Linked DNA regions of Homo sapiens. The protein of the gene in region 4 interacts with the protein of the main gene of each other region in a pairwise test. Each region holds a gene or a part of one and is shown on either strand. Other genes may lie near its edges.

The links.
Region 1: the proteins of COX20 (region 4) and C1orf56 interact in binary tests that used the Homo sapiens proteins (3 or more experiments, as listed by UniProt).
Region 2: the proteins of COX20 (region 4) and GET1 interact in binary tests that used the Homo sapiens proteins (3 or more experiments, as listed by UniProt).
Region 3: the proteins of COX20 (region 4) and FUNDC2 interact in binary tests that used the Homo sapiens proteins (3 or more experiments, as listed by UniProt).

What each region holds. Positions count from the first base shown.
Region 1 is NC_000001.11:151,043,174-151,050,947, reverse strand, and holds the start of C1orf56 (protein MENT precursor), read right to left. Parts: upstream 3,198-7,774; 5' UTR 3,101-3,197; coding exon 2,096-3,100; intron 511-2,095; coding exon 490-510; 3' UTR 1-489. Other genes in the region: BNIPL (bcl-2/adenovirus E1B 19 kDa-interacting protein 2-like protein), read right to left, coding at 4,261-4,297, 4,783-4,881, 5,065-5,151, 7,221-7,352, 7,514-7,616. UniProt on the Homo sapiens protein: Involved in control of cellular proliferation. Onconcogenic modifier contributing to the tumor suppressor function of DNMT3B.
Region 2 is NC_000021.9:39,382,844-39,390,775, forward strand, and holds part of GET1 (guided entry of tail-anchored proteins factor 1), read left to right. Parts: intron 1-4,937; exon of another isoform or gene 4,938-5,012; intron 5,013-7,854; coding exon 7,855-7,932. Other genes in the region: GET1-SH3BGR (WRB-SH3BGR readthrough), read left to right, coding at 7,855-7,932. UniProt on the Homo sapiens protein: Required for the post-translational delivery of tail-anchored (TA) proteins to the endoplasmic reticulum (ER).
Region 3 is NC_000023.11:155,043,544-155,051,475, reverse strand, and holds part of FUNDC2 (FUN14 domain-containing protein 2), read right to left. Parts: intron 4,968-7,932; coding exon 4,892-4,967; intron 1-4,891. UniProt on the Homo sapiens protein: Binds directly and specifically 1,2-Diacyl-sn-glycero-3-phospho-(1'-myo-inositol-3',4',5'-bisphosphate) (PIP3) leading to the recruitment of PIP3 to mitochondria and may play a role in the regulation of the platelet activation via AKT/GSK3B/cGMP signaling pathways.
Region 4 is NC_000001.11:244,830,227-244,838,913, reverse strand, and holds the start of COX20 (cytochrome c oxidase assembly protein COX20, mitochondrial), read right to left. Parts: upstream 3,257-8,687; 5' UTR 3,200-3,256; coding exon 3,158-3,199; intron 2,430-3,157; coding exon of another isoform or gene 2,394-2,429; intron 1-2,393. UniProt on the Homo sapiens protein: Essential for the assembly of the mitochondrial respiratory chain complex IV (CIV), also known as cytochrome c oxidase.

The DNA.
Region 1 (7,774 bases), about 94 Mb from region 4:
AAAGGATGGATATAGCTAATGAAGATAACTCCTCGAAAGTGGCTGAGATGGAATTTTGTACCAACATTGCCCTTTTGAGGAGAGAGGGCCAAGCATGAAGGCAAGAAGACCACTGTCATCTTTCAAGGGCTCAACTCCTTGTTCTTCCTACTCCCTTTTCTTAGCGTTTATTTGAGATTTTTCAAGCCTGTAAAAGAAGTACTTGTTTTAAAACAATGTTGGAAATGAGGAAAATGAGCAATATCAACATTTTATCCTGAGGGACAGGGAGTAGAAAACAAGCCAGAGGCTGCTAGTTACATAGTTCAGTCTTAGGGATGAAGGGATTTATGTCTCTCCTCCCTCAGGTACCTCTGTAAAGAAACACAAGACCAAACAATGTGTTTTCCAGTTTTGTTTTTCTGTACTAAAAATATCTAGTGGGTGCTAGGATTGAAAGGGCAAGAGAGGTTGAGATACTGACATCTCCTCATGTGGATGAAGTGGCCATTACCTCTGGTTTCTGTCTATCTGCGTAAGAAAAAAAAATAGAGAAAAAGGGAAATTACAACCACATCTATATTCTTTTCCCTTCCTTGCTTCATCTCCCCCTCCCACAAACCCATATTCCCTCAACCCTACTGCCCACCCCTTACTTATTTTTGTATGCAATAATGGTATTGGACACACAAGGAGAAAAACAGAAACAAGCAAAATGACCAAGTGTAAGCTTTATTACCTTTCCCTCCTCAAAGTCCTATCATCCGTATCAATTGAGACTACCTTATCAAGTCAATCAGAACCTTTGCTAATTCTGGGAAAAGCAGAGGACTATCCTTCCTTGTCCTGGAAGGACAGTACTCCCAAATGGTAGTGGTGAAGAGAGTGGGCACTGGTGTCAAACCTGGTTTAAATCTCGTGGCTCTGCCACTTACTAGCTTTGTAAACCTCAGTTTCTTCATCTGAAAAGCAGGGATAATAATACCTCATAGGATGTGAGGATCGATTCAGGTAAAGTGCACATAGTAAGACCTCAAATTTTGGCACTTGTTGCTGTTAAGCTGTATTAGGTCAAAACTATTAATTGATTAAGATCCTTCATATCTGTTAATTATCTGTGCATCAAAAAGACTTTATGGGCCGGGCACAGTGGCTCATGTCTGTAATCCCAGAATTCTGGAAGGCCAAGGTGGGCAGATCCTTGAGCTCAGGAGTTGGAGACCAGCCTGGGCAACATAGCGAGATCTTGTTAGCCAGGCATGGTGGTGCACGTCTGTAGTCCCAGCTATTCAGCAGGCTAAGGTGGGAGGATTGCTTGAGCCCAGAAGATGGAGGGTGCAGTGAGTTGTGACTGCGCCACCACACTCCAGCCTGAGTGATGAGAGACCCTGTCTCGAAAAAAAAGTCTTATGGTCAGGGGCACAGTAGCTCATGCCTGTAATCCCAGCACTTTGGAAGGCTGAGGCAGGAGAATTGCTTGAGCCCAGGAGTTTAAGACCAGCCTGGGCAACATAGCGAGATCTTGTCTGTGAAAAAAACAGAGAATTTCCAAGACCAGGCATGGTGGCTCATGCCTATAATCCCAGCACTTTGGGAGGCCGAGGCGGGTGGATCACTTGAGGTCAGGAGTTCTAGACCAGCCTGGCCAACATGGTAAAATGCTGTCTCTTCTAAAAAAAAAAAAAAAATTAGCCGGGCATGGTGGTGGGTGCCTGTAATCCCAGCTACTCAAGAGGCTGAGGCAGGAGAATTGTTTGAACCTGGGAGGCAGAGGTTGCAGTGAGCCAGGATCACGCCATTGCACTCCAGCCTCGGCAATAAGAGTGAAACTCTTGTCTTGAAAAAAAAAAATATTTCCAATCTTAACTATTTGGTCAATAATCACCTAATGAGCAGTAAGACATTTTACCTAATGACCAACCAGTAGTTGCTCAATAAATAATAGGTGGAATCAATGGCTAACAATGTGAATAACCAATGCATGTTATGAATCAATAACCAGGTAAGTCAGTAACAGTTCATGTAAGCAACACTGGCTGGCTTAGCAACTGGGTTTTAGATACCAGGACTTTTCAGATCCGTCAACAAAGACCCTGGCTCATCACCAAACACTTACTGGTTGCATCTCTGTGAACACTGAAGAGAGGCTATTCCAAATATCCTCCAGGCCAATCCTGACCCGTTTCCAAAAAGCCAGGGCTGGGCAGGGGCTGGCGGGTGGCAGGCTGGGACTGCTTCTGAGGTGGATGGTGGGGAAGGGGGTAGTGGTGGTCCTGGTACTGGTGGTGCTCTGAGAGGCACAGTTGGTGTCAGTACAGAGACTTGTGTCCAGGGGGCACTCTTCCCGAAGTCGGTTGCAGGGACATTGTTGATAGGTGCAAGGCTTGTGCTCCGTGCGGAGCTGGCTCAGCGCCCCAACTCGAAGGCGCCCGGAAAGGCCGTGCAGCTTCCCAGACCGGCTCCGGCTCATGGTGCCCGACTTGCAGTGGCAGTGCCACGGGCCCCAGGGCATCAGCACCAGCCGCAGATCCTCAGGAGATGGCATGGCTGTGGGTGAGGGTGACGGCCACCGGCTCGGGGTAGACCCAGGTGTGGACCACTGGCTCAGGGTGGCCTGCGAGCCTGGCAGGTCCTCAGTAGACCTCCCGGGGGAGCGCGGCAGGCTTGAAGTCAGCCTGATTTCAGGCTCCTGACTATTGGCTATAAACCTCGTGCTGGAACTCCCCGCTGTATTGGGAGTCGCACTGGGAAGCTCTCTGCTGGTGCTATCCTTTCCGGCATTAATCACAACCCCCTCTTCTGAAGACCCATCCTCCTCGTTAATGGCGGACGACCGGCTAAAGCCGGTGGACACCGTGGCGGCCAAGAGCTCGGCAGCCGCTGGTCCAGCCAGGCGGTCGGCGTCGGCCATGGCATCATTCTCGTCCTCTAGGATTATCCTTGTCTTCCGGGGAAGACCAGTCCGGGCGGTGCTCCGGTAGCTGCGGGTCATGGGGCCCCCAAAGCGTAAACTGACCCGCTGCATTTCGGTCGGAGTCTGGGTCAGGCCTTGGGCCCCCGCCGCCCGGGGACCCAGATTCAGCAGCAGGACCCACAGCAGCGCGCCGGCGGCGGGGACCATGGGGCTGGGCTCTTGGGGTTGGGAGGGTGGCCAGTGAGGCAAGCCCTGCCTCCTACCTTCGCTCCCTCCCTTCCGCTGTAGACCCACCGGGTCGTTTGAACCGAGGCCCGCGGGGAAGGGGGTGGGGTTCGACGCGCAGGCGCGCTCGCGCGGGCCGCGCGGGGTGCTCCTAAGGAACCTCTGCGGCAAGAACTCTGCCAGAACCGAAGGTTTGGGATGCAAGGGGTGGTGAAAGAGTCGTTCACTTCTTTGGAGCAGAGCTTAAATGTCTCATCGCAGTTTATTAGCCTCTACAGTTCTAAATTTACTAAAGAGGGCAAAAATACAGGTTTTGAAAGCACTCCTTCCCAGGCTCACAGGCAGCAGACATGACTTAGAAGGAAAAAGGGCATACAGCGGTTCTTCAAGATTTAATGAGCTGACTCTCCTGGCTCCCAGCAGGCAGGCTGGCTGTCAGGTAAGCCTCTTCCATCCAAGGTGGAAGGATCACAGTCCCTCCAGTTAGACAGGAGGAAAATTAGGACCCAAAAAGATGAAGTTATTTGCCCAAGGTTCTACAGCTAAAGTAGGATTAAAACCCAGAGCTCTGGCCGAGCGCGGTGGCTCACACCTGTAATCTCGGCACTTTGGGAGGCCGAGGCGGGCAGATCACGAGGTCAAGAGATCGAGACCATCCTGGCCAACATGGTGAAACCCCGTCTCTACTAAAAATACAAAACAATTAGCTGGGCGTGGTGGCGTGCGCCGGTAGTCTCAGCTACTCGCTGAGGCTGAGGCAGAAGAATGGCTTGAACCGGGAGGCGGAGGTTGCAGTGAGCCGAGATCGCACCACTGCACTCCAGCCTGGCGACAGAGCGAGACTCCGTCTCAAAAAACAAAAAACAAAAAAACCCAGAGCTCTGCATATCCCATACAAAATGACCCTACATTCAGCCTTCCGTCCCAGCAACTGGAATGAAAGTCACCCAGCAGATCAGTTTCCCAGCCTCAAAGCCCTGCTGAAAGTAGGGTCATGCAAAGGACAAAATCCCACTGAGAAGTGAAGATCCGGTGGTACTGAGGTTGGGGATAAGATGATTTACAAAACAGTTCAGATGTTTCAGGGATTCAGGTGTAGGCAGATCACTAACTGGTTCTAAGGCCTTTTATCCAGTCCTGTGCTATGTCCCTCCTGAGCCATGGAGATCCCGGTCCAGCCTAGGAGAGGGAGAGGGGGAGGAGAGAAGTGGTTCAGGGGGTAGGACTTGGGTTTTATTTTCTGGTTTGGGGAGAGAAGCCAGGTGAATTGGAAGAGCTAGATGATTGGGTTGAGTCATCATTTAGCACTTTTGCTCCCTAACACCCTCTCCCCCACTGGATATCATCTGTTCACTGCCAACACATCTCTTCCTAATTTCTAGGGCCAGTCTGAATCTCCTCTGCACTGTGATTATTCCTTTATTCCTTATTGCCTCTGCACTTATATGTATAGGTTTTTTTTTTTTTTCATTTATTCTTGTTGGATGCAGTAGTGTCCTTCATTTCTTCTCTGGGTGTGTGCAGTTTCCCCATATACATTAAAGCACCCGAAAACAGGGCCCTCTAGCTTTTCGTTCTTTTGTATGTCCCCCAAGGCATTAAAAAAGTAGAGATTGGCTTTACACATCCCACCCCAAGGCTTTATTCTTAAGTGTGAAACTCACTGTCTGACAGCTTCAGGGATGTGGACTTGATCCAGGGATATGAGTTGGGCCAGCTCCCCCAGGCTGTCCAGAAAACGGATTTTTCGTGTGAATTTGGAACTGAAAAGAGAGAATAAATCAACTGTGTTTTGTATTGGGAGAAGGGTTCCCAAAAATCCTTGCAAAGAAAAATGTAGAAGTAGAGTGGTTAAGGCTAGAAAGAATCAAGGTGGAGAAAGATCTTAATCTTGATTTTGAAAATGGGGGGAAGGAGAAAGGAGTCCTTGTTCCTAGAACTAGTACCTGATGAAGGGCCGAAGCAGTGCCAGAAATGCTTTCACATACCATGTAGCATGGACAACCACCAGGGCTCGCAGGTTTTTCCGTAGCCTGAAAAACAACATGAGATCATCCTATTTCTTCTTCCACCTTTATGTGTGAAGATCACGTGGAACTGTTTTCTGTACTGTAACTTCCTTCATTCACTTCTCTAGTTTCTAGATTTATCTGGTACTTGGGTCTAATCCCCATTCCGTCAGCTGTAATCTCAGCTCCACCCATCTTATTTAGCCCTCCATGATCCTCATTTTTAAAAAAACTCTCAAGATTTTTTTTTTTTTTTTTTTTTGAGACGGAGTCTCACTCTGTCGCCTGGGCTGGAGTGTAGTGGCACTATCTCAGCTCCCTGTAAGCTCTGCTTCCCGGGTTCATGCCATTCTCCTGCCTCAGCCTCCTGAGTAGCTGGGACTACAGGCGCCCGCCACCGTGCCCGGCTAATTTTTTGTATTTTTAGTAGAGACGGGGTTTCACCATGGTCTCGATCTCCTGACCTCGTGATCTGCCCGCCTCGGCCTCCCAAAGTGCTGGGATTACAGGTGTGAGCCATCGCGCCCGGATTTTTTTTTTTTTTTTTTTTTTTTGAGATGGAATCTCACTCTGTCGCCAGGCTGGAGTCAGTGGCTCGATCTCGGCTCACTGCAACCCTCCACCTCCCGGGTTCAAGTGATTCTCCTGCCTCAGCCTCCCGAGTAGCTGGGATTATAGGCACATGCCACCATGCCCAGCTAATTTTTGTATTTTTTTAGTAGAGATAATGACTTGTCACCATGTTGGCCAGGCTGGTCTTGAACTCCTGACCTTGTGATCCGCCCACCTCGGCCTTCCAAAGTGCTGGGATTACAGACGTGAGCCACCGCGCCCGACCACCTGGTCTTTTTCTGCTCCATTTCCATCTTGTGCTCTACCCTCGCGTAAGTTCCTTTTGCATGCTTCTACATCGCTCCATGACCAAGATTACTTATAAAACTCTAGGTGGAAGAAGACCAGCAAGGACGAAAAAAGGAAAGGGGGCAAGAAGAGAAATGTGAGCAAATGGAGATGGGGGAACCAAAAGGGGAAAAAAAAAAAACCTGAGAAGGAAAAGAAGACACAGGGCCAGGCACAGTGGCTCACACCTGTAATCCCAGCACTTTGGGAGGCCAAAGCAGGCAGATCACCTGAGCTCAGGAGTTCAAGACTGGCCTGAGAAACATGGCAAAACCCTGTCTCTAACAACAACAACAAAAATACAAAAATTAGCTAGGCATGGTGGTGGCGCATGCCTGTACTCCCAGCTACTTGGAAGGCTGAGGTGGGAGGATGGCTTGAGCCAGGGAGGGAGAGGCTGCAGCGAGCCAAGATCTTACCACTGCACTGCAGCCTGGTGACAGAGAAGACACATAGGTCAGTGATGAAGGCAGAGAAGAAGATAATGGAGGTGTGGAAAGGGAAATAAATGGCAAGACTGAGAGAAGAGTGCTTTCTGTGTGCCAGGCAATATGCCACACTAATTTACTCGATTTTCACAAATACCCAGTGGCAAAAGTATAACTATTGCCATTTTACAGATAAAGAAGCTGAAGTGGCCGGGTGCAGTGGCTCATGCCTATAATCTCAGCATTTTGGGAGGTGGAGGCAGGCAGATCACTTGAGCTCAGGAGTTTGAGACCAGCCTGGGCAAAATGGTGAAACTCCATCTCTACAAAAAATACAAAAGTTAGCTGGGCATGGTGGCCCATGCCTGTAGTCCCAGCTACTTGGGAGGCTGAGGTGGGAGGATCGCTTGAGCCTGGCAGGCAGAGGTGGCAGTGAGCCGAGATCGTGCCACTGCACTCCAGTCTGGATGACACAGCCAGATCCTGTCTCAAAAAAAACAAAAAAACAAAAAAACTGAAGCTGAAGCCCAGAGAGGTTAAGTGACTTGTCCAAAGCCATACAGCTAGTAAACAGTAATGTGGTAACAGCAGGATTTGAAGCTAGATTTCCTTGACTCCAAGAGAAGACAGAAGACAAAAGAGCTGGGAAAGGAACGTAAAAGGACAAAGAAAATAGGAAAAGGACTAAATGGAAGAAGAAATAATAGAAAGATGGGGAAAAAAAGATGAGATAGAGAGTTGTAGCCCTCTCATCCCAGGTCTCACCGCCGATCCAGGGTACGGTAACACTGACGTATCCAGCTTAGAGGTGGAACTTGGGCCCTGCTTGTGCCTCCACTCAAATGAACAAGCAGGTAATTTTCAGCTACTAGCAGCTCCAGAGTTCCCACCATATACCTGGGGGGATGAAATTGCAGGGAAGGTATGTGTTAGGGGCTTCAGAGAGTGAGAGGAACATTACTGTAGACTCTCCCATCAGCTACTGATCTTTGAAGGAGTTCTTTTTTACTTTTCCCTCCCTAACACTGCCCTGTAGCCCTTCAGGCCTTCCACCTCACCTAAACAAGTGTTCCATGACATAGGTGTAGTTGGGGATGCTGCTTCTGGGTAGATAACAGGAAGCAAAAAGGATGACAGCATTGAGGCCATCACCGTGGTAACCTGGAGAGTGTAAGGGGAAAATTCATTTGGTCAACAAATATGTATTGACAGATAGTATATCTGTTTAAGTTGAGGGACTCTGAGGGTCTCTGGAAGTTCCAGGATAGATTTTGGATCCAATGACTGAGTCTCCAGCTTAGGCATTTTATTAAGAAGCC
Region 2 (7,932 bases), on a different chromosome or scaffold from region 4:
CAGCCACACCATTCGACATTCTCACCAGCAGTGCAGAAGGGTTCCAGTTGCTCCATATCCTTCAACATGTATTTTGTTTTCTTATTTATTTATTCTTTTTATTTTTTTATTTATTTTTATTTTTTGAGATGGAGTCTTGCTCCGTTGCCCAGGCTGGAGTGCAGTAGCGCAGTCTCGGCTCACTGCAAGCTCCGCCTCCCGGGTTCACACCATTCTCCTGCCTCAGCCTCCCGAGTAGCTGGGACTACAGGTGCCCACCACCACCACAACCGGCTAATTTTTTTGTATTTTTAGTAGAGACGAGGTTTCACCGAATTAGCCAGGATGGTCTCGATCTCCTGACCTTGTGATCTGCCCGCCTTGGCCTCCCAAAGTGCTGGGATTACAGGCTTGTGCCACCGCGCCCAGCCTATTTTTTTTTTTATTATTTATTTTATTTTGTTTATTTATTTTTTGAGACAGAGTCTTGCTCTTGTTGCCCAGGCTGGAGTGCAATGGCGCAATCTCAGCTCACTGCAACCTCTGCCCCCCGAGTTCAAGAGATTCTCCTGCCTCAGCTTCCCAAGTAGCTGGGATTACAGGTGCCCGCCACTATGCCCGGCTAATTTTTGTATTTTTAGTAGAGACGAGGTTTCACCATGTTGGCCAGGCTGGTCTCGAACTCCTGATCTCCGGTGATCTGCCCACCTTGGCCTCCCAAAGTGCTGGGATTACAGGTGTGAGCCACTGCACCCAGCTAATTTTTATTTTTTTGAGAGGGAGTCTCTCTCTGTCACCCAGGCTGGAGTGCAGTGGCTCAATCTTGGCTCACTGCAACCTCCGCCTCCCAGGTTCAAGCAATTCTTCTGTCTCAGCCTTCCAGGTAGCTGGGATTACAGGTTTGAGCCACTGCGCCCAGCTAATTTTTATTTTTTTGAGAGGGAGTCTCTCTCTGTCACCCAGGCTGGAGTGCAGTGGCTCAATCTTGGCTCACTGCAACCTCCGCCTCCCAGGTTCAAGCAATTCTTCTGTCTCAGCCTTCCAGGTAGCTGGGATTACAGGTGCATGCCACCATGCTGGGCTAATTTTTGTATTTTTAGTAGAGACGGGGTTTTGCCATGTTGGCGAGGCTGGTCTCGAACTCCTGACCTCAGGTGATCCACCTGCCTGGGCCTCCCAAAGTACTGGGATTACAGGCGTGAGCCACCACCCCCGGCCTTTTTTTTTTTTTGTAATACTAACCATTCTAATGGACGTAAGGTGGTGTCTCATTTTAGTTTTGATTTGCATTTCCCTAATAGTGATGTTGAGTATCTTTTCAGATGCTTATGGCCATCTGTTTATCTTTGGAGACATGTCTAGTCAAATCTTTTGCCCCCTTTTAAAATCCAGTTGTTTTTTGTTGTTGAGTTCCTTTTGTTGTTGTTATTATTATTATTATTATTATTTTTTGAGACAGAGTTTTGCTCTTTTGCCGAGGCTGGAGTGCAGTGGCGCTATCTCGGCTCACTGCAACCTCTGCCTCCTGGGTTCAAGCGATTCTCCTGCCTTAGCCTCCCGAGTAGCTGGGATTACATGCATGCACCACCACACCTAGCTAATTTTTGTATTTTTTTTAGTAGAAAGAGGGTTTCACCATGTTGGCCTGGCTGGTCTCGAACTCCTGACCTAAGGTGATCCACCTGCCTCAGCCTCCCAAAGTGCGGAGATTACAGCTGTGAGCCACCACACCTGGCCGACAATTTTTTTTTTTTTTTTTAACTTTTAAGTTCAGGGATACATGTGCGGGTTTGTTATATAGGTAAACTTGTGTCATGGGTGTTTGTTGTACAGATTATTTCGTCACCCAGTTATTAAGTCTAGTATTCATTAGTTATTTTTCCTGATTGTCTCCCTCCCACCCCCTATCCTCCACCCTCCAAAATAGAAAAATTTGTTTTTAGAGGCCGGGTCTTGCTCTGTGACTCAGGACCTGTGGCCACATCCTGTGCTGCCTCATACAACCTTATGGCCTCTCTAACCTCAACCCAGTTAGCTTTCCTAAACCCATTTCCCTATGATTGTTAACACTTGTTGTTAGCCAGGTTCAGAAGGATAACATAATTATTATCCCAGCAGAGTACACCCACCCTGTAATCGGTAAGAGAGATGTTTGGCCTGGTCACTGGGTTTGTGGTGAGAGTCTGTGAAAAGCTGTAAGGAACGCGCTGGTCTTCAGTAGGGTCAAATGCTGCTCCTTCACCATCGTCAGAGGCTACTTCATCACAGCCTCTCTGATTTGAGGATTCAAGTGGGAAAGACTCATGACAAGCAGCAGAAAGTCGAATTGGGAAAACAGTGCCCTCAGGGATGGGGCCGCGCTCAGGTACTTAGATTATAACCTCCGTTGGGATGTTTCTGAAGCTTTCGTCTTAGCAGAAGTTAGGGAGGCAGCACCCCGATCTCAGCACTCAGTCTAGGCCGCACTGGTCCCCGCACTGGTCTCCCCCCTCCCCCCGCGTGAGGCCTTAGGAGGTCTGAAGTATCAGAAGTCCTTGGGCCAGTTAAGCCTAGCAAGGTCCTGGGAGGCGATCTCAGCTGTCCGCTGCGGTGGGGGTGGGATGCCTGGTAAGGACACCAAGTCCGTGGTGTTGGCGTGGTTGGAATTTTCCTGGGATCGCTCCCTTCTCTTCAAGCTGGTCACGGGGACGCATGGTTGAGAGCGCCTAGTTCATTCAGTAGGTGGTCCAGGACTTTCTTCAGCTATAGAGGGGAACAAAGACGCCTTTGGTGAGCACCGGCTCTGCAGCTCTGCGGGTGCAGGGGAGGTGTACTGCGTAGGTGCCCCAGGACTGGCGGGGGCTGAGGGTCCATGCGAACGGCACTACTACGCAGGCGTCGCAGGACTGGCCCGGGCTCAAGGTCCGTGCAAACTGCATGCACTGCGCAGGTGCTCCAGGACTCGCGCGGGGTCAAAGTCCATGCAAGCCGCACGCACTGCACAGGTGCCCCAGGACTGGCACGGGCTCAGAGTCCACGCATACCGCACACACTGCGCAGGCGCTCCAGGACTGGCGCGGGCTCAGAGTCTATGCAAACCGCATACACTGTGCAGGCGCCCTAGGACTGGCGCTGGCTCAGGGTCCCTGCGAGCTGCACGCACTGCGCAGGCGCCCCAGAGCTGGTGTGGGCTGAGTGGCCACACGAGCCACATGCACTGCGCAGGCGCCAGGAGGCCCTTCCTCTCAATCCGAGCTTTGCAGATGAAGGACTCTGCGTGTGTTGCCTTCTGGGCTTACGGGCCGAGTGCCCTTTGAGATTCAACTTTTTCTAAATTATCCTTCACTTTCTGCTGTAAAGAGTGGCCACCTCCTTTTTCCTCTAGGGGACTGAAGCGAGAGGAGGATATTGCAGGGTTTGCCTCTGTGGTCATCTTCTTAGAGAGCACCCCCTCCGCCCCCACACCCTTTTCCTCAGAGCCGTTGCTTAGTGAGTCCCTGCCATGGACCAGGCTTGGGAATGGTCCCCAAGTATTAGTTTAGGAGGACGACTCTCTGCTTCACAGGACCTACCCCAGAATCCTGTGACTCAGAAGCGCGCTTGTGAAGTGCGCATGTGCGGGCAGGGCCTCCAGTGGGGCTCTCGTGGGGGCAGCAGCCAAGGACTGGGGCTGGTGGCCTGGAGAGCTGCCCGCTTCTCCGCCCTTGCCGGTAGGGTTCCTGGCCGAGAGTGGCATCTGGGGCTGTTCAGGGTCTGGAGCTTCCTGAGTTGGAAGACCCTGTCCTCTGTGTTCAGGGACTCAGGGTGACCTGAGTTGGTGGTTCCTGGGTTTGCCTGCTCTACTGCTGGCAGGGACTAGCACGGGGTGTGCACGTTGTCATGCCATCAATTAATTCAGAGATTCACTTTTGTTCTAAAAATTAATATTTGCATTATTACATTTAGATTCATATTAAATCTTACACTGCATGATTCTAGAACATTTTAACACTTATACGTGGGTCTTGGATTAACATTGATACATATTTGCAAATTTATACTTTAAAACTTTTTTTTTTTTAGAGACAGGGTCTCACTCTGTTGCCAAGGCTGTAGTGTGGTGGTGCCATCATAACTCACAGCAGCCTCAACCTTTCGGGCTCAAGTGATCCCTCCCTCCCCGCCTCAGCCTCCTGAGTAGCTGGGGCCACACGGACCACAGGCGTGCACCACCACACCTGACTAATTTTTAATTTTTTGGTAGAGATTGGGTCTTGCTATGTTGCCCCGCCTGGTCTCGAACTCCTGGGCTCAAACGATCTTCCCGCGTCAGTCTCCGAAAGTGCTGGGATTACTGCACTGCGCCTGGCTCAGACAGTTTTTATTGTGCTTATACATGTAATAGATGTAATTATTTTTTCAAGCACCAGTTGTTTTTGTTAACCTTACAAAGCTGCCTTCAGTTTTCCTGAAGTTCACCCTTCTGCCTTCACTCACCTCCCATTCCTGAGTTGTTTTGTGTATTCCCTATAATGCTAAATAATGTCTTGGAATCTCTTTTTCTTTTTAAAATATGGTTTTAAAAGTCAGATTTATTGAAGTGTAATTTGTATAAGGCGAAATTATCAAAAAGTCCTTAGCAGTGTCTGTAGATTTTCCTTGCTTTTGAAAGATAATTTTGTGATTCATCTAAGAGAATTTGGCCCATTCCTATTTCCTTCTCCAGAGTGGATCAGGCTGGAGTATAGCTCCTTCGGTTATAGTGCTGGGTAGTGGCCAGGGCAGAGGCACCACAAAGAGAGCTGGATTTGAACCCCCTACTCCCTGCGCAAAGGCTGCCAGAAGCTGCGCTGCAGTGAACACGCTGCGCATGAGCCCCTAGACCCCTCCACCCCCCCTACTCCCCACACTCCCCCCCCCCACTTTTGCCTCATCACGCAGGCGCTGGTAGGCGGCATCACTGGGCGGGTCAGAAACCACGCGCATGCGCAGACACCCTCAGGCGACTGGCGGGTCGCGGCTTCCAAGCTCTAAATGGAGAGTTGTCCCTACTGTGCGGCAGGCGGAGGAGACCTGTAAGCTGGAAGGGGGAGGGGGGGGGATCTGATTTATTGTGTGCCAGGCACACTTTAGATACACTATAACATTTCGTCTTTATTAATCTATTTTTAAAATTTCGAAACAAACACAAATGTGCAGAAAAGTTATATACAGTCAATACCGATAACTGATTTTGTTTCCTGAACCATTTGGAAGTTGTCAACCCAAACCCCCTCATTCCGAGATACTTTGGTATTCAAAAGAATCTTGGGGGCCGGGCACAGTGGCTCACGCCTTTAATCCCAGCACTTTGGGAGGCCGAGGCTGGCGGATCGCTTGAGCTCAGGAGTTCACTGGCAACATAGTGAAACCGTGTGTCTACTAAAACTAAAAAAAAATTAGTCGAGTGTGGTGGTGCAGGCCTGTAGTCCCAGATGCTCAGGAGGCTCAGGTGGGAGTATCGCTTGAGCCCAGGAAGTCGAGGTTGCAGTGAGCCGAGATCTAATGCAGGCGTCAAGTACGTTACCACGATCTGATCCTCAGACCCCATGCAGGTTCCCCACGTTTCGCAGTAATGTCCTTAACAGGGAAAGGACCCAGTTCGGAATCATGCATTGCATTTCCCGGCCTCTAGCCTCCTGTCTGGAGGAGTTTCCCAGTCTTCCCTTGACTTTCATGGCTGTCATTTGTGGGTGTCAGAGGCCAGTGATTTCGCAGAAGGGACGCCTACTGGCATGTCTGATACTTGGTAGGGATTTCTGAGAGGCAGTGCTGTGTTCTCATTGTGTCTCATCCGCTGGTGTGGGACTGGGATTTGGGGATGTTCGCTGATCCCTTGGGGTAGGTGCCAGAGGCGCCACTGAGGGATCTGGTCTTGGGGCGCCCGCGCAGTCCTTGGACTAGGCCTTCCCGGCAGATCTGCGGGCGCCACCTGGCGGTCACTGCCGACTCCTCCGTTGCGCTCCAGTCACCTCTCCCATCCCGGTGCCGTGGCCGGGCCGTTCCCTGGAGAGTGGACGGCTGGGGCTGGTGCAGGGAACAGGGGCCTGCGGGGGCTGCGCAGGCGGGCCTCCAGGTCATGCGGGGCCCCTCTGCTCACAGGGACCAGCCAGGCCAGCCTGGGGAGCGTGCTTCTTTGTTTATGTCTGTATTTCTCTGCCTATCTGTGGAAACCACAGATCTCCAATTGAAGCCAACACCACAAGATTCATTCTGCTTCTCTCCGAGACGCCTGCCTGCCTGCCTTCCTTCCTTCCTTCCTCCCTCCCTTCCTCCCTTCTTCCCTTCCTTCCTTCACCAGGTTATGAAAGTGGCTAATTTTTCATATTTTTTGTAGAGACAGGGTTTCACCATGTTGCCAAGGCTGGTCTTGAACTCCTGGGCTCAAGCGATTCACCTGCCTTGGCCTCCCAAAGTGCTGGGATTATTGGCATGAGACACCGAACCTGGCCTTTTTTCTTTTGTCCCCCTTTTTTTTTTGAGACAAGGTCTCACCCTGTCGCCCAGGCTGGAGTCCCATGGCATGATCTCAGCTCACTGTAGCCTTGAACTCCTGTATACAAGAGATCCTCCCACCCCGGCCTCCAGAGTGTTAGGGTTGCAGGCCGAGCCACCATGCCAGGCTGAGGCATCTTTCTAAGTGTCTTTGTTGAAAGTGAGAAGACTGGCTTCCGTTACTCTCAATATGTTTATTTCTGTGATCACCCTTTTGTAATTAATCTCTGGTGTCCACCGCCCACTGTTACCCAAGTGAATGCATGCCTCTCCCCACCTGGGCTCCGACCCTGGCAGGGTTCCTTCTTGTCTTGTATGTCTGTCTCCCTCACCCTACAGACCCTGACTCCTGTGTCAGGCTGCCCTTTCTTGGGGACCCCTGTATCACCATGCCTGGCCCTGATGCCTCTTGCCAGGGTGCCATTCTGTGGGAAGGCCCTCTGCACTGAGCTTGGGCACTGACATTCTGCCCTGGGCCCCTGCCTCACCACTGTTACCCTGCACCTGCACCTTGCTCTGCCCCGTCTAATCTAGGACTGAATTCTTCTGGGAGGGGAGAGGTTACATGTTCCCTGTCACTGGAATAACAGCTCTGGTGATGGAATTGGTTTTCATTTCACAATTGCAATTTTATTTATAGTGAAACAGACAAACATTTGTATTGGAGCAAATTCATGGGCATATCTGTAAAAGGAAAAATATAGTTTGAATAGCAATTTGAATATGAGTTTTTTTTTTTTTTTTTTTTGTGGTCGTTATAGGGAGCCGAAAAAGGCAGCAGAGGCTGGCTGTGTAGGTAGAGGGCAGCTTGCCCAGTTGGCAGAGGTGGGAGTAGGATGTTGGAGGAAGGTGTACCGGTTCTGTCTGGCCAAACCCATGCTGGAGTCACCTCAAAAGCAGTGGCAGGGGAGTTCCCTCAAGGGGCTGCTCCAGACTGCCTGGAGATGGGGCTGGCTTGGATTCCAAAGAAAGAAGCACTAAACGCCAGGGTGATAAGTCCACAGCATTCATGACGGGAACTTACAAGAGCTGCGGCAGTCCCGGGACAGCCAGTGAGAGAAAGGGACATTTACCTAGGGCTGTCTGCCACCCGGGGGTTGGGGTATGGAGTGTATGTGGGAGTTTAAGGACTTTGTCATGGTGGGGCTAGTTTGTAGGTGTTTCTCAGCAGGATGAATCTCCCAGTGTTCTCCAGCAACAGCCTTTGCTCTTTATCAGTCCTGGGAACGTTCACGGCCGCAGTTTGCATTCAGTCCTGCAGGGACGCACACAACTGGCTGGGTCACAGAGTGGTCAGGGCATAGACAGAAAGTAGCGGGGGACTGGGGAACCCTCCTGTGACCCGTGTTGGAAGGTGCTGATCCCCGTTGTCCGCCCTGCCAGATGTCCAGGGTGCTGCAGAAGGACGCGGAGCAGGAGTCACAGATGAGAGCGGAGATCCAGGACATGAAGCAGGAGCTC
Region 3 (7,932 bases), on a different chromosome or scaffold from region 4:
AGAAATAACTACTGGCAATTCTTTTAAATTATTTATACTCTTACAACCCTTTTACAAAGAGTTACATAAGATGAAAATCAAGGTGGGGGGTCAAGATGTAGGGTGAAGAGATGGACCTTACAGCCAATACAAATGTTTCCAGAGAATGACTCTGACAATGTGCCCATGAGTGTCAGTTTCCTGACAATGTGAACAGAGCAAAGCATTCAGGCAGTTATTACTGTTGCTTAACAGGAAGAAATCTAGCATCTGGCCCCACAGAGATTTCTCATGAGCAAGTTCATATAAACGGATATTAAGAGAACCACATCCAAAGACACCTACAGCATATACCTATTTCCCTTGATAAAAACAGCAGGCACAAACACTAAAACTCAGTGTAAATCTGATTCAAGCATGTAGATTTTGATGATGGATTAATATCATCCTAGGAATGAAGAGAATGACTGTAGCCAATCAATCAATGCCCTATCAATATCACTTCTCTCTACCAAATTTTTGGCAATCTCAAAATATCTGAAACTAAAAGTCTTCACCTTGCTAGAGTCTCCTCCTGCATTGTTGCTCTTCCTCTAGGCCCTATTTTAGCTAATGGCACCACCAGTCACCCAAACAGACTAGAGAAAATACTTGTGATGTGTATCATAAACAAAACATTGATACTCAAAAAAGTGAACTTCTTATAGAGATCAGTAAGAAAGTTCACTTTAAAAATGGGTAAGGGCAATTCAGAGGAAAGTGTCCACAAAAAGGAAAAAGTTCAACTTCACAAGTAATCAAGCCATAGTACCTTTATTTATGAGTCTATAACTGGAAATACACAAAAGTCTATCAACACATGAATGGATAAACAAATTGTATCATATTTACACAATAGAATATTACTTAGTACTAAAAAGAACAAATTACTTACAGCAACCACATAGTTGAGTATCAACATTTGTATCTAAAAGAAGGCTCTGGTTCATTTACTCCACCCTGTTTATCCCACAAAATCCTGCTATTAAACTGAGAGAATACATGGACTAGCTATTTGAAGGCTCTTACATAAAAACAGCGACGTGCAGATTGGAGAAGACCAGAATTCAAAGCACCACCAAACTGGTGGCGTGTTTCCTGCTTTTCCTGCAGTATCGCCTGGCCTAACCTCAAGGCAGGACTCAAGAAACATCTGACAAAATTCAACGCAAATTCATGATAAAACTCTCAGAGAAAGAGCAATAGAGGGGAACTTCCTCAACTTGATAAAGAACATCTACATAAAAAACCCTGCAGCTAACACTGTACAGAATGGTGAAAGAACGAATGCAGGGAACAAGGCAAAGCTGTCCGCCGTCTCCACTCCTATTAAATATCGTACCAGAAGTGAATTCAGAGTCAGCACAACAAGGCAAGAAAAAGAATTAGGAGGCATCCTGATTCACAAGGAAGAGGTCAAACTGTCTCCAATCATAGACATCTTTGTCTACATAGAAAATTTCATAGACTTCAACAAAAAACAAAAACTCCTAGACTAAAAAAGTGAGTTTAGCAGGGTCACAGGACACAAATTCACACAAAACCAACTGAATTTCTATATGCTAGCAATTTGAACTGGAAATGAAAAATGTTTAAATGATTTACAACAATGGGTGCAAAAAATAATTAAATATTAGGTACAAATCAAATAAAACATACAGGATCTGTATACTGAGAACTACAAAATGCTGAAGAAAGAACTCAAAGACAACCTAAATAAATGGAGAGACACATCATGTACATGGAATGGAATACTCAACACAGAAATGATGCCCAGTTCTCTCCAAATTATCCATAGATTTACTGCAATCCCAAATCACAAATCCCAGTAGGATTTCTTATAGATACATAAATAAGCCGGTTCTAAGATTTATATGGAAAGGCAAAGGAACTGGAATCACCAAAATGAATCTGAAAAAGAACAGAGTTGGGGAAATCACACTACCTGATTTAAGATTTACTATAATGCTACAGTAGTCAAGACAGTGTGTCATACTGAAGAAGAGATAGACACACAGACCAACAGAACAGAATAAAAAGTACAGAAACGGACGTGGACAACTACAACAAACTGATTTTTCACAAGGGGGCAAAAGTAGTAATGGTGGTGGTGAAGTCCCCTGGGTGGCCCAGGCCAGGATTGCGAGGTGACTTCCTGCTCTCCTTGGCATTACTGGGGGACTGCACTGCAGGGGCAAAGCAACACCAGAACTGGGAAAAGCAGCCTCTCCCGCTGCAAGGTCCCTCCAGCGCCCTCTACTGACAAAGCTCAACATCCTACTTCCATTGCAGCACAACAAGTAGAGGGAGCCGAATAAACTGAAAACTGGCAAGCGTTGCTGCTGGGCTCTGAAAGCTGCAAAAAGTGCTGGAAATGATCTACAGCTTGGTAAGAAAAAGCAACTACATTCATAAAGACGTGAAGGAAAAATTTCACTGTTCACAGATGGCATAAAAAGATTTTATAGACAAAACCCAAAAGAATCCCAGACAAGACTTTTTTAACAAGGTGGCTGGCTGAAAGAGCAACATAAAATATCAACTGTATTTCAACACACTAGCATGAATCAGAATGTGTAGTTTTAAAAATCGTATCATCCACAAGAGCAACTAAAGTTATAAGGTATCCAGGAATAAAACTGAATCACAGATGTACAAGATCTATACGGAAAAATAATAAAAAGTCTATTCAAAGGCATTAAAGAAGACCTAAATAATTGGAGAGAAAGCCCGTGTTCACAGATAGAATACTCAATATCATAAGAGATATCTACATGGTTCCAATGCAATTCCGATAAAAATTTCAACAGGATTTTTGAAAATAACTGACAAGTCTGATCTAAAATTTAGATGAATGAGCAGAAACACAAAAGTAGCTGCAACACTCCTGAAGAATAAGGTGGAGGAATTTGCATTACCAAATATTAAGCTTTAGTACTGTCATAAAGATCGAAAGTTGACCAGTGGAACAGAACACAGAAACCAGAGTCACAGCCACACATACATGGGTTCTGATATATGAAAGAGACAATGCTGCAAATGTTGGGAAAGGGAAGAATTATTCACTAAATTCTGCTCAATTATCAGTATGGAAAAAAGGAAACTGGATCCCTATGTCAAACTATAACTTGTGATATAACTGATCTCCCAACATTATGCTTGCCTCCTGCTCTCACTCCCCTGGTGACAGATAACATGAGTGCCTGCCACAGATTCTCCATGTCTCACCTCTGCAGCAAAGCAGTGTCCCTGTACCCCTTGAATATTGGAATTATCCAACCCCAAAATCTCATTTTGAGGTGCCTTTCTGGAGACATTTTCAATACCAATTATTTCTGTCAGGGCCCCAAAACGAAACAGAGGACACACTCAAATTAAGACATTTCAAAGCAATATTAAAATGTTTATGAAGTTTGGGGCAGCATATAAGGGAAACCACAGGGATAGAGATGTTACTGCACTTCCACCTGAAGGGTCAAGGGGAAGGAGAGAGAGGTGTGAGGAGGGGCCCCACCTTGCAGGGAGTCTGACCTGTCTAGCAACAGAGCCAGCACGTAACAAGCCCACAGGGAAGCAGCCAACAAAAGTGAGGCTTGGGCAACAAAGGAGATGCAACTTGCACCATGTTTCTGCAGAACTGTGCTTGGGAGTCCTGAGGTCATGGTAGTGTGAGGAAGCCTATACTGGCACAGGGACCACATGGAAGAGCACTGAGACTATGGACAGGGGGGAAATAAGGAGAGGAGGAGGGAAGACAAACAGAGACAGAGACACAAAGAGGCCCCACAAGTCCAGACCTACCCTAACCCTCTGATCATCTGGCCTGTAACCACATGAGACTCTGATCCACAAGCACCTACCTTAACCCTCCCCAAACTCCTGTAACCATGAGAGAGAATAAAGTGATCATTATTTGAAGCCATTAGGTTTGGGGGAATTTGTCATGCAGCAATACCACACTCAACCCAGCTACAGCCAGTTACCAGCTTCCCTCTTCGATACATTTGATTTTCACCTGACCTATCTGCAAAACTCACTCCAATCATGGTGCTAATGCAGAACTTACCTTGCAAAAGTGAGGGTTGCCAACTGTGGGAAGAGACAAACGGCTGTGAATTCAGAGACTCTGGCATGATTCAGCAAGTTATGGCTCCCACAGCACAGCAGAATCACCTCAGGAGTTTTAAGTTTTCCAATGAAATCAGACTGTGGGTCAGGAGTGGCACACGTTGGCTCTTTTAAAAACTCCTAGGTGATTCCAATGTGGAGCCAAATTTGAATACCAATGCCACAGAGCTAAGAAATGTATGCCTAATACAATCAAATGTCAGTTTTCTTTTGTTTTTGGAGAAACTGCTCCCTTTTTCAAGTCTTGCTTGTTAGTCTCTCCTAAGCAGTCTCAGAGAACTGGCAACCACTGGTTCTGAAACTATGGGTCAAGGAGACAGCAGACGACATCTGACTGTACTGTCACTTAGCTCCCATTTCTCATCACATGCTCAACATCCCCTCTGTGAAAGCTAGCTATAATATTAGCATATGACACTAAATCATCACAGCACACTTGTATTTTTGAAATCACATCCGCTTAATAATTCAGCTGGTCTTAAAAACTCTTTTAAGGGAGCTATGATAAGGAATTTGCACTTCTGTCGCCACATGAGGAAATAAAATGGGACTGGCAAATAACATTTACTAGTATAATGAATAAAATTTGACTCAAACGGTCACTAGCATTTAAAATAGTACATGAAAACAAGTGCTAAGGCTAGTCTAGTGTGACATAGCCAGGACTGTATTACAACTCCCCACACCACATTCCTTAATGGGCAGGTGGAATTTCCAAACATCTGAGAACATTTCACATACAGACCTGAAGGAGAAAAAATCCACCTCCCACAGCTGTTGCAGCCAACTTTCCAACCTTCTGGAATATGAAACCTGTGCACCTACAAAAACAAACCAACATCAGACAAATTGATGAGCTGTCAGTTACATACAAACATGCATTTCTGGCAATGTTCATATCTTACTTAGCTTAAGATGACCTAGCTCCTTCCTACCCCCTACATAAAGCCAGCCCCAAGAGGAGCATGACATAAGGAAATCAAATCTTGGCTCTATGAATCTTGTGGTCTTGAGTAAGTCCCTTAAAACTCTCAGGTTATATTTTTAAAAGATGACTCTGGCTACATTGTGGAGAAGAGATTAAAGGGGGAGGACGAAGGCAGAGACTCTAGTTAAGACGGTGAGGTAGCGATCCAGAAGAGAAGTGAATGCCAATGGGCCGAGGTAGAGATGGCAAGGAGGGAGCAGACCTGAGGAACTGTTTGTGAAGAAAAAAAAAAACACTCCTGAGTTTGAGGACAGGATGGTTGCAAGGGATAAGGCACAAGATTCTGTCCTGAATGTGGCATTTTTTACAATATAAAAACAAGGAAGAGGAATAGAGGAAAAGGTGGGGGAAGGGAGGGGAGGAGATAATGTCATTTTGAATATGTTGAATGCAAAATGTCCATATGATATCTGAGTGGCAACATCTTGTAGCCAGTTTAATATAATTATGTGTTTCTTTATTACTGTCTATCTTCCTGCCCCCACCCGATACTAAAATGTAAGCTTCATGAAGGCAGAGATTTTGTTGTTTCATTGCTGAACACCTATCAGCTGTAATCATTAACCATTGTTGAAAAAATCCTCCCTAGACTCCAATTCTCCAGCCCCCTTCCCTTTTCTGTGCTCTCCTTTACAGCAAAACTACTTTGAGGCCGTCTCTTTTGTCCTGTGTCCATATTCTCTCACACCTACACCATTCAGGCTTTTGTCCCATGACTTCAATGAAACCATTCCTATCAAGGTTACCACTGATCTTGACCTTACCAAATGCTAGTGTTCACTTCTCAGCTTTAATCTCATCTGACCTACAGCAGCTTTTGACACAGTTGATTACTCTCTCCTTTTTTTAAAAAAGGTATTTTATTGTGTATATTTGAGGTTTACAACATGATGTTATGGGATACATATAGACAAGTAAAGTGGTTACTATAATGAATCAGATTAATATATCTATCATCTCACATAGTTACTTTTTTGTGATAAGAGCAGCTAAAATCCACTTAATTCACAGAAATCCCTAAGGCAATACAATTGCATTAGCTGCAGTCCTCATGCTGTACATTGGATCTCTCGACTTGCTCCTCTTACATATTTGCTACTTTGTATCCTTTGACCCACATCTTCCCATTTCCTCCCATCCTATCCCTGGTAACCAGTTTTATTTCTTTATATTTATTATATTATACAACTGTATATATGACTTTTTCCCCACACATATGAGATCATGCAGTATTTTGTCTTTCTATGTCTGGCTTACTTCACTTAGCATAATGTCCTCCAAAATCTATGCTATGGCAAACAGCACAATCTCCTTTTTTAAGGCTAAATAGTATCCCATTGTAGACACATTTTCTCTATCCATTCATCCATTGATGGACACTTAGGATGTTTCCATATCTTGGCTACTATAAATTAATGCTGCACTGAACATGAGAGGGCAGATATCTTTATGAGGTGGTGATTTCATTTCCTTGGGGTATATACTCAGAAGAGGAATTGCTGGGTCGCATGGTAGTTCTAATTTTAATTTCTTTAGGAACCTCCATACTGTTTTCCATAATGGTTGTAACAATCTACATTCCCGCCAACAGTGTACTAGGGTTCCTTTTTCTCCACACCCTCATCAACAATTATCTCTTGTCTTTTTGATAACAGCCATTCTAACAAGTGCCAGTTGATATCTCATTGTGCTTTTAATTTGCATTTCCCTGATAATTGATGATGCTAAGCATCTTTTCATATACCTCTGGTGGCCATTTCTATGCCTTCTTTGGGGAAATGTCTGTTCACGTCTTTTCCCCATTTTTTAAATCAGGTTATTTGTTGTTCTGCTATTGTACTCTCTCCTTCTTGACATCTTTTTGCTCTGGAATACCATTCTCTCTTGGTTTTCCTCATATATCACTGGCCATTCCTTATCAGACAATTTTGCTGAGTCCTCCTCTTTCTGACTTCTGAATGTTAGGTTGTTCTGAGGCTCAGTCCTAGAACCTCTTTGCTCTGTGTATTCACTTTCTATCTGCTGGGTCTATACCATGATCTCTGATGTAGGTTACTGTTACAGCTCCTCATCTGGACTTCTTACCTCCACTTTCACCCCCTAGAATCTATTCTCAATATAGCAGCTCATACAGTCCTAAAACAGGGGTCGACAAACCGCAGCCTGGGAGCCAAATCCTGCCAGATGTCTCTTTGTAAATCAAGTTGCAACAGAGATTGTGTGATCCATAAAGCCTACAATATTTACCATATGGGCTCTTTACAGAAAAACTTTGCTGACCCCTGCTCTAAAATGTAAGATCAAGGTACACTTCTGCTCATAACCTTCCAGTAGCTTCCCTCCTCACTAAGAGAGAAAGTTAAAGCCTTACACTTAACATCTTGTCTCCCATTACCTCACTACCCTCATTGTCTACTGTTCTCCCCTTATTACATTTCAGCTCAGTAAGAGAAAGAATTACAAATACAACAATGCATGGAGAACCTCATAAGACTTTTAATCTTTTTTAAACAAAAGTTAGATGTCAGGCAGTATATTTCTGAAGCGACTCTGAAATTGGAAGGGTGGTAGGACCAGTAAATAAATGATAAGGGTCCATTTTAAGAGCATTCCACTGTTCAGACTTACTAAAGTATAATCAGAGTAACTGACATATTTAGAATGGTTACAGATTTTTGCTGTTACAAAAATTGTTGCACTGTTTACAACACCTGGCTTTTTCTCTTTTTAAAACAAAACACACATTTTAAATAAAGCCTAATAACAAAGCAAGACCCAAAAAGATCAAGTGATTTCTA
Region 4 (8,687 bases):
GGAGGCTGAGGCAGAATCGCTTGAGCCCAGGAGGCGGAGGTTGCAGTGAGCCAAGATGGCACCACTGCACTCCAGCCTGGGCAACAGAGCAAGAAGACTCCATCTCAAAAAAAAAACCCAAAAATCCTCTATACACCCCTCTCCTCTCATCAGCCACCTAAACCACCATCCTTTTGGGGCAAAACTTCTGAGTGTAGGTGTGCTTTTCTACTTAAAACCTCCCATTCTCCCTTTAACTCACTTGAGTGAGGCATCTATCCACTGAACTTCACTTGACACCAGTCAAGACCTCTAAAAGACATCCACTGCAGTCTAAATCCGCATCTCAGCATATGTGGCACAAATTATCATTTGTTTTTGAAACTTTTTTACTTTTACTTGGCTTCAAATACGTCTCCTGGTTTTCTATTTCATTGACATTTTTGTTGCTGTTCCCTCCTCTACAGACCTGATTCTGAAGTGCCACTCTTAACTCCTTTGGAATCTAGTCTCTTCCTAGGTATCCCAAGGCTTTCAATTAAATGCCATTATATGATGACTCCAGATTTCTAAATCAAACCCTAATCTCTCCCAAGCTTCAGCCTCATTCATCTGCTTAATGAATGACACTTTTATGTATAAAAAGCACCTTGAACCTCGTATTTGCAAAATATATTTTCACCTCCAAACCTTCCTCTTAATGGCACACTACTCAACCAATTTTCAGACCCAAAAACTAAGAGTCATCCTTGATTCCTTCATCAAATCCACATCAAATATATTAGCAAGTCTGGAAGGATCCACATTCTAAATACATCCTGAGCCAGACCACTGCCCACCAACTTCATTGCTAATACAGGTTGAGCATCCCAAATCTGAAACTGATACATCAAAAGACAATTTTTTTTTTGAATTGGGAAGCTCAACCTGTCCTATCAAATTACCATCTATCAACAGTACCTTTCAGATCTTGATTCTACTCATAAAAATGTGTATCAGATGACTATAATAAGTCCTCTGTAGCCTCCGATTATGCTCAGAATCCTTACCATTGCTCCAAAGGCCCTACATGATCCCATGCTCTTTCATATCCTACTCTTGTCCACTAGTCCAGGTACAGTGGCCTTGCCATTCTAACAAGCCGAGATGGTTATTACCGAACGAACACATGCTGCCTTTCTCCTGGATCTTTGCATGACTGGCTCAGTAGAAGTCTTGCTTATTGATTCCTCCAGTAGAATGTCAGCTCCTTAAAGGGATTTTTCCTGTCTTGATCAGTCTAGTACCTCGTTCAGTGTCTAATACTCAGTAGGTACTCTAAATATTTTTTGAATGGGTGAATTAAGAATTTACCTGAATGTGAATTTACCTGTATGTACCAAATTTCACATTTTAAAGTTTCTTAAAGGACAAGAATGTGGCAGAGGACAGTTTTTAGGGGCTAGTTCTATCAAGGTATGCCAGCTTGGTAACTCCCATTTTTACTTTAGGTTTGCTAATTCTTATAATAAAATAATCCTCCCTGGGTTGTGCTGGAATGATCACTGACAAATTCTTTTAAAAAAAATAACCGCAGGCTTCCTTTCTGACAGCACCTTGGGCTGTTAATTCATCATAGCTTCTATTAATTTAATTAGCTTTTTGATGGGCTCTGATAGGTACTACTGTTTCATGAGCAATTTTTGTTTTTTTGGCCTCCCACCTCTGACTGTGCTCGGTTTGAGGCTTATAACTATCTTCATTTCAACAACTACAGTATTGTTTTGCTACTTACTGATGGGCCAGTTAAATAGGTCAATGTTGATCCTCTTTTAAGTTTTTTTTTTTTAATTTCCAATGGATTAAACCACCTTTATGACCTTTAAAAACAGCAGTTATCTCCTACCAAAAGTCCCATTCAGGATTCCAGTGTTTATCACAAAACTGAATCTAGGATTTACTGTGTGTATGCAAAGATCTTTTTTTTTTTTTAAACACTAAGCTTATTCCAGATGGGCAGTGTATGGGACAGTAAAAACAGATAAGGCACCAGTAGTACGTAAACTGACAACCTGTTGGATATTAAGTATGAAAACAATTTATACAATATTTGTTAATATTAACCATATGATCTGATGTCATGGCCAAATTTGGATGGAAGCCCACCAGAGAAGCAAGCAAGAGCAAGAAGTGAGCAGAATTTCCAAGCTGGGAGAATATCTTAAGTATATATTAGGAGCCATTTAGCACACAGTGGGTCTTCTATAAATATTTGCTCGTGATTAGCCAATGTTACGATCTCCCTAGTTTATATTAAACTTTTTTCCTCTTGCATTATTCTTTTCTGAATACCTGTTCTGCCCTGAGGATATAAATTAGGTTCCCTGCTCTTAATAAGGAGCCCAGGAAAAGAGGAAAACAAGATCATTTATTACCTTCCAATATGATAAATGTAACGACGTACAAGATGCCTGGGAAGATGGGGAAAGTACGTAAGTCAGCTTTGGTGAAACACAGGAGCCCTTCCAGGGAGAGCGCTTGGTTTAGCTTTACTATACCAAGAATTTGGGTTTTATCCTTAAAGAGATAGGATGGGCTGCTACGACTGGATGTTAGGCAGAGGAATGAAAACTGTCCAGTTTACAGGCTGGAAAGGGCCAGCGGACAATAGTGGAAGGTGGATTCAGGAGAGTATGGAGACAGGGACACCAGCTAGGGAGGCTACTGGTGATGGGGAAGAAATCTTAACCCTTCATCTCATCGTAGTACAATCAAGTCATCCCTCAGCAATTACTCCTATGTTAAATGTGATGAATACAACGTGTTAAAGACAAGGCACCTGTCCTCAACGGAGCTTTAATCTCTACTATTAGCCTTTACTAACAAATTACAGTGCAGTGCCCTTAGCAGCAAAATTTTCTCGCCAAAGATTCAGTATTGTTAGCTTATTTCATAATGACCTGTAGTAAGTCATTAGTACTACTGGTCCCCTCCTCCCCCTAGTTTTGGTCAATTTTGTCCCGGCCACTTAGATTAAAATGTTGGAGGCTTGGGATAAGGACTAGGAACAGTTAAAATAGTTTCAAGCCCATGGGTGGCAGAGAAGCCAGTGACACGTGCTCCGGGCCTAGGAGCTCCGCGGAGAACGTCCTTACCCACCGCCCACCCGCGGCGCGCGCCCCGCCGACCCCCAGGTTACCTTCCTCTCCTCGGGCTCACCGGGCTCCGGCGGGGCGGCCATGAGGACTACTCCGCGACTCCACCCGCCCTGCACCGCCGGGGTCGCGGAAGCAGAAGCCCGGCTGGCCGCGCCCCTCCCCGTCCCGCCCCCACGCGCCGCCGCCTCCCGCCCTGTTCCGACGCGCCGGCCGCCATTTTAGGGAATGTTCCTAACGCTCCGCAGTGGCCGCACGGGGCCGGGCTGTCATGTCCTTTGTTCCGTCGAACGGGTCACACTTTCTTCCAAGCTCGGCACACAGCCTGCAGGGGCGGGAGAGCGGAAGGAGATGGGTTCGGAAAACAAACCGACTCCTAGATTCCTGGCGAGGTGGGGGCGTAACCGAGCCAGACAGCCCCGCTTCCCGCGCCAGCCCCCTGCTCCGCCCCAACCGCCATTTCTAACCGTCTCCGGCGCGCGTGCTCACACGCACGAGCCTCGGGCGCGCGCCGAGGGGCGGGGCCGCTGCTTTGTCCTGCGGGGTGGGCCCCACCGCGGGGGTCGGCCCGGCCCCAGCCCCCAGCCCGCCCCAGCCCACCGACCCGGAAGGCGCTCCGCGCTGGCTCGGCGGCCCTCGTCCCCTAAGTGTCCTTTGTCCTTCCGGCCACGGGACGAGCCCTTGGTGCCGGGGCAGCCCCACTCTGCACCAGCAGCCATTTAGTCCCCCGCGCCTGCCTTGCGCAAACGGGGCTCCCACGCCCACCCCACTTCCTCCCTTTTATAGTTTCATTACTAAGTGGCTTTAACATAGAACCGCGCAGTTCGCCTAAAGGAGACTGGGGACAAAATGGAGGGAGCAGCTCGCTAATGAACATGCGTCAGCACGTTGGTGTCCGCGGAGAGGGCGCGCGTGTGGCGAAGTCTTCCGGCGTCCCCGAAGGAAAAATGCCTCTGCAACGTGCATTTTTGATGTGAAGTCGTGTTCCACGTTTCACTCCTCCCTAAGACTGCGACATAACGTGAAACAAAATACTGCATATTGTCGAGCTCAATGGAGAACGCGTGCATGCAGGGTCGAGCCCATTTTTCAGCCATCAAAATAATACAATGCAATTTTTTCTAGTATTTATAATTTTTCCCCTTTAACTTTATGCCTCCTTTATGTACTTCTACATTTCACGTTTAGGTTATATGTAACCTAAGGGCACTCCTTAGGAAACTGGACTTGTAGAATATGTCATTGTGCAAAGTCATGCTGCTTCGAATTATGCTGCGCGCTGGCACACAGCAAGCGCTCAGTGTTAACGATGTCGAATTCATATTAAGTACTGTTCATTGGGCGTTTTCTTACTCCGTAAGGACCTTACTTGCATGCCCATTTGATACCTTTCTACAATCCCAGTAAAATACACAGTTAAGGTTGTGTATTTATGTGTCACATTTTTTTTTTTGAGGTTTTTTTTTGCGGGGGCGGGGGGGGTTTTTTTGTTTTTGTTTTTGAAATTGTAGTTAGAAACTACATACTGTGCCGGGCGCGGAGGCTCACGCCTGTAATCCCAACACTTTGGGGGCTGAGGCGGGCGGATCACGAGGTCAGGAGTTCGGGACCAGCCTGGTCAACTTGGTGAAACCTCGCCTCTACTAAAAATACAAAAATTAGCCTGGCGTGGTGGGGGGCGCCTGTAATCCCAGCTACTCGGCAGCCTGAGGAAGGAGAATAGCTTGAAAACGGAAGGCGGAGGTTGCAGGGAGCCGAGATCGTGCCACTGTACTCCAGCCTGGGAGAAAGAGCGAAACTCCGTCTGGGCGGGGGGAGAAACTACATACTGCTCTACTGTTTGCTAGGGAAAAGAAAAAAAGTCACCCTACTGGTGATATCCTGCCAATTCTGGATTCTCTGCTGAAATTATAATGCTAACTATGCTTTGAACTCCGGATCTGAAAGGCCGTGTTGAAGGTAGTAATATTCCATGAAGGAGGGGGAAATCCTTTTGAAGTCATTGTTGATTATGTTGTAAAAGGAAAACTGGAAAAGTACCAGCTAAAACACCACCGAGTCATCCTATTTTATTTTTATTATGACTTTGAAAATTTGCTAGAGTAGACATTGTTGGGGTCTATTTCATTTGTCTTTGAAAAGTATTTTCATAAGGATGATTTATTTTTTATTTTTTATTTTTTTTGAGACAGAGTCTCACTTTGTCGCTCAGGCTGGAGTGCAGTGGCGCAATCTCAGCTCACTGCAACCTCTGCCTCCCGGGTTCAAGTGATTCTCCTGCCTCAGCTTCCTGAGTAGCAGCTGGGATTACAGGCGCCTGCCACCACACCCGGCTAATTTTTGTATTTTTAGTAGAGAAAGGGTTTCACTATGTTGGCCAGGCTGGCCTCAAACTCCTGACCTCAGGTGATACGCCTGCCTCTGGTTTCCAGAGTGCTGGGATTACAGGCGTGAGCCACTGCGCCTGGCCTATTTTAAAATTTTTATTTTCACAAAATTGCATATAATATTTCCATTTTTAATTGTTTAACAGTTATAGAAAGGAAAGTAAAAATCTCAGTTCTTTCTCTCCTTTTTAAGGTAAATATAACTAACAGTTTGATGTCTCTCTTTTCAAACTCTTCTTTATCCTTCTTAAAAACAATTATTTGTAGAGACGGGAGGTGGGGGATGGTGTGTCACTTTGTTGCCCAGGCTGGTCTCAAACTCCTGGACTAAAGTGATCCTCCTGTCTCACCCTCCCAAAGTGCTGGGATTACAGACATGAGCTATGGCACCCGGCTTTTTCTTAATTAAATATTATTACACGAGGCCGGGCACGGTGGCTCATGCCGGTAATCCTAGCACTTTGGGAGGCCGAGGTGGGTGGATCAGCTGAGGTCAGGAGTTCAAGACCAGCCTGGCCAGCATGGCAAAACCCTGTCTCTACTAAAAATACAAAAATTAGCTGGGCATGGTGGCACACACCTGTAATCCCATCTTGGGAGGCTGAGGCAGGAGAATCGCTTGAACCCAAGAGGTGGAGGTTGTGGTGAGCCGAGATCGTGCCATTGCACTCCAGCCTGGGCAGCAAGAGCGAAACTTCGTCTCAAAAACAAAAAAAAATTATCCCACGAATACCTATATTTTGTCTTAATTAAAACAACACTGGAATATATGGGGTAAATAATGAAAGGCTCTATGTCACACTTGCCTCCACGCTTATGTATACATGTATCTGTATGTGATACACGCTGAAATGACACTGTACCACATCATTTGCATTCAGTAATTTACTTTTTGCCATATATCTGGGAACTTGTTTGATTTATGTACTACAGATTTACTCATTCATTTTAATGACTGCTTAGTAATCCTTTCTTTTCTTTCTGATTGACATTTCTTTTTTTTTTTTTTTTTTTTTTTTTGAGACAGCGTCTCGCTCTGTCGCCCAGGCTGGAGTGCAGTGGCGTGATCTCGGCTCACTGCAGCCTCCGCCTCCCGGGTTCAAGCGATTCTCCTGCCTCAGCCTCCTGAGTAGCTGGGACTACAGGCGCCCGCCACCACGCCCAGCTAATTTTTATATTTTTAATGGAGACGGCGTTTCACCATGTTGGCCAGGAAGGTCTCGATCTCTTGACCTCGTGAGCCGCCCACCTCGGCCTCCCAAACTGCTGGGATTACAGGCGTGAGCCACCGCGCCCGGCCTCTGATTGACATTTCTGAAAGTTTCCATTTTTTACTAATCCCCAAAAATGCTTCAATCAGCATCTTTATGCATACATATATATCTGTGTACATGTTCAAGTATTTCTGTAGGGTAAATATCTGGAAGTGGAATAACTGATTTAAAGGGGTATACACAATTTAAAATGTAATACATACTGCTAATTTGTCCTCCAAAAATACTATCAATCTACATTCCCCACCAACTGTATGGGAGAGTTACCTGTTTCCTCACCTTTTCAACACTGCATATGTTCACATTTTTTAATTTGGGGGAGGGTGGGCGTGATGGCTCAGGCCTGCGATCCCCTTACAATTTGAGAGGCCAAAGCAAGAGGATCTCTTCAGGCCAGGAGTTCGAGACCAGCCTGGGCAACAAACGAGACTCCTCCCAACACCCATCTCTGTCAAAAAAAAACAAAAAACAAAAAACAAAAAAAAAACAAAAAAAAAAACCAAAAAAAAAAACAAAATTAGCTGGGCTCAGTGGCATGTGCCTGTAATCCCAGCTTTTGGGGAGTTTTGGGGGTAGCTGAGGCAGGAGGAAGCATTGCTTGAGTCCAGGAGCTTGAGGATGCAGTGAGCTATGATTGTGCCACTGCACTCCAGCTTGGGCGACAGAGCAAGACCCTGTCTCTAAGCTGAATCTCATGGGGGCGGAAATGGTATCTTATTGCTTTAAACTTTTCCTGATTGCTACTGTGGTTGAGCATTCTTCCAAATGTTTATTGACCGTTCTTTCTCTAAGAATTAACTTTGTATAGCTTTTGTGTGTTTAAAAATTTGGGGACAGCACTTTGGGAAGCCAACGTGGGCAGATCACATGAGGTCAGGAGTTTGAGACCAGCCTGGCCAACATGGCGAAACCCCGTCTCTACTAAAAATACAAAAATCAGCCAGGTATGGTAGTGTGCACCTGCAGTCCCAGCTACTCGGGAGGCTGAGGCAGGAGAATTGCTTGAACCCAGGAGGCGGAGGTTGCAGTAAGTCGACTGTGCCATTACACTCCAGCCTGGGCGACAAAGTGAGACTCTGTCTCAAAATAAATAAATAAAATTGGTTGTGTATGTGATTTTCGTGTTAAAGTAGCTCTTTACAAGCATAGTTTTTAGTCCTTATATATGTAACGAATATTTTCTGCATGTTCACTTATTTGTTGTTTTTGTTTATGGGGTCTTTTATTTCTCAAACGTTTTAACTCTTTTTTTCTTGCAGAGTCAAATATGTCAATATTTCCTTTTATGGTGCTTGATCTTGTGTCTTGCCTAAGTAGGCATTCTTGACTCATAATGAAAACATACTTTCATGATTTTGAAAATAATTCTATACTCCCTTTCTCATTCATAATTTTGAATATTTTTTCTTCTAAAAAGACCAACTTTTGGTTTTACTATTTTTTATTTCATTTTCTATTTTACATTTTAAAAAATTTACCTGATCTATTCTATTGTCTTTTTTTAGCTTTTTGAATTGACTACTTCATTCACTTTTTCTCCGTCTTTTTTGGTTTCTAATGAATGTCGTTATGACTATAAAATTCCCTCTGAGAATCATTTTATTGTTCATTATATCAGATTGTCATAGAGGTAATGTTCCTGTTAATCTTTCCTAAATTTTGTATAATTTCAGCTTTTATTTCACAAGTGAATATGATTGGATATGCTTTTGTTGTTCATTTCTATTTTTTGTCTTATTATGTCTTATACTGTGGCCTGTTTATTTCTACTTTTGGGGGTTTATTGATTGTATGTGGGGTGTGTGTGTGGTCTTACCTAAGAGATATCATTTCTGGCCTGGCATGGTGGCTCATGCCTGTAATCCTAGCACTTTGGGAGGCTGAGGCAGGTGGATCACTTGAGGTCAGGAGTT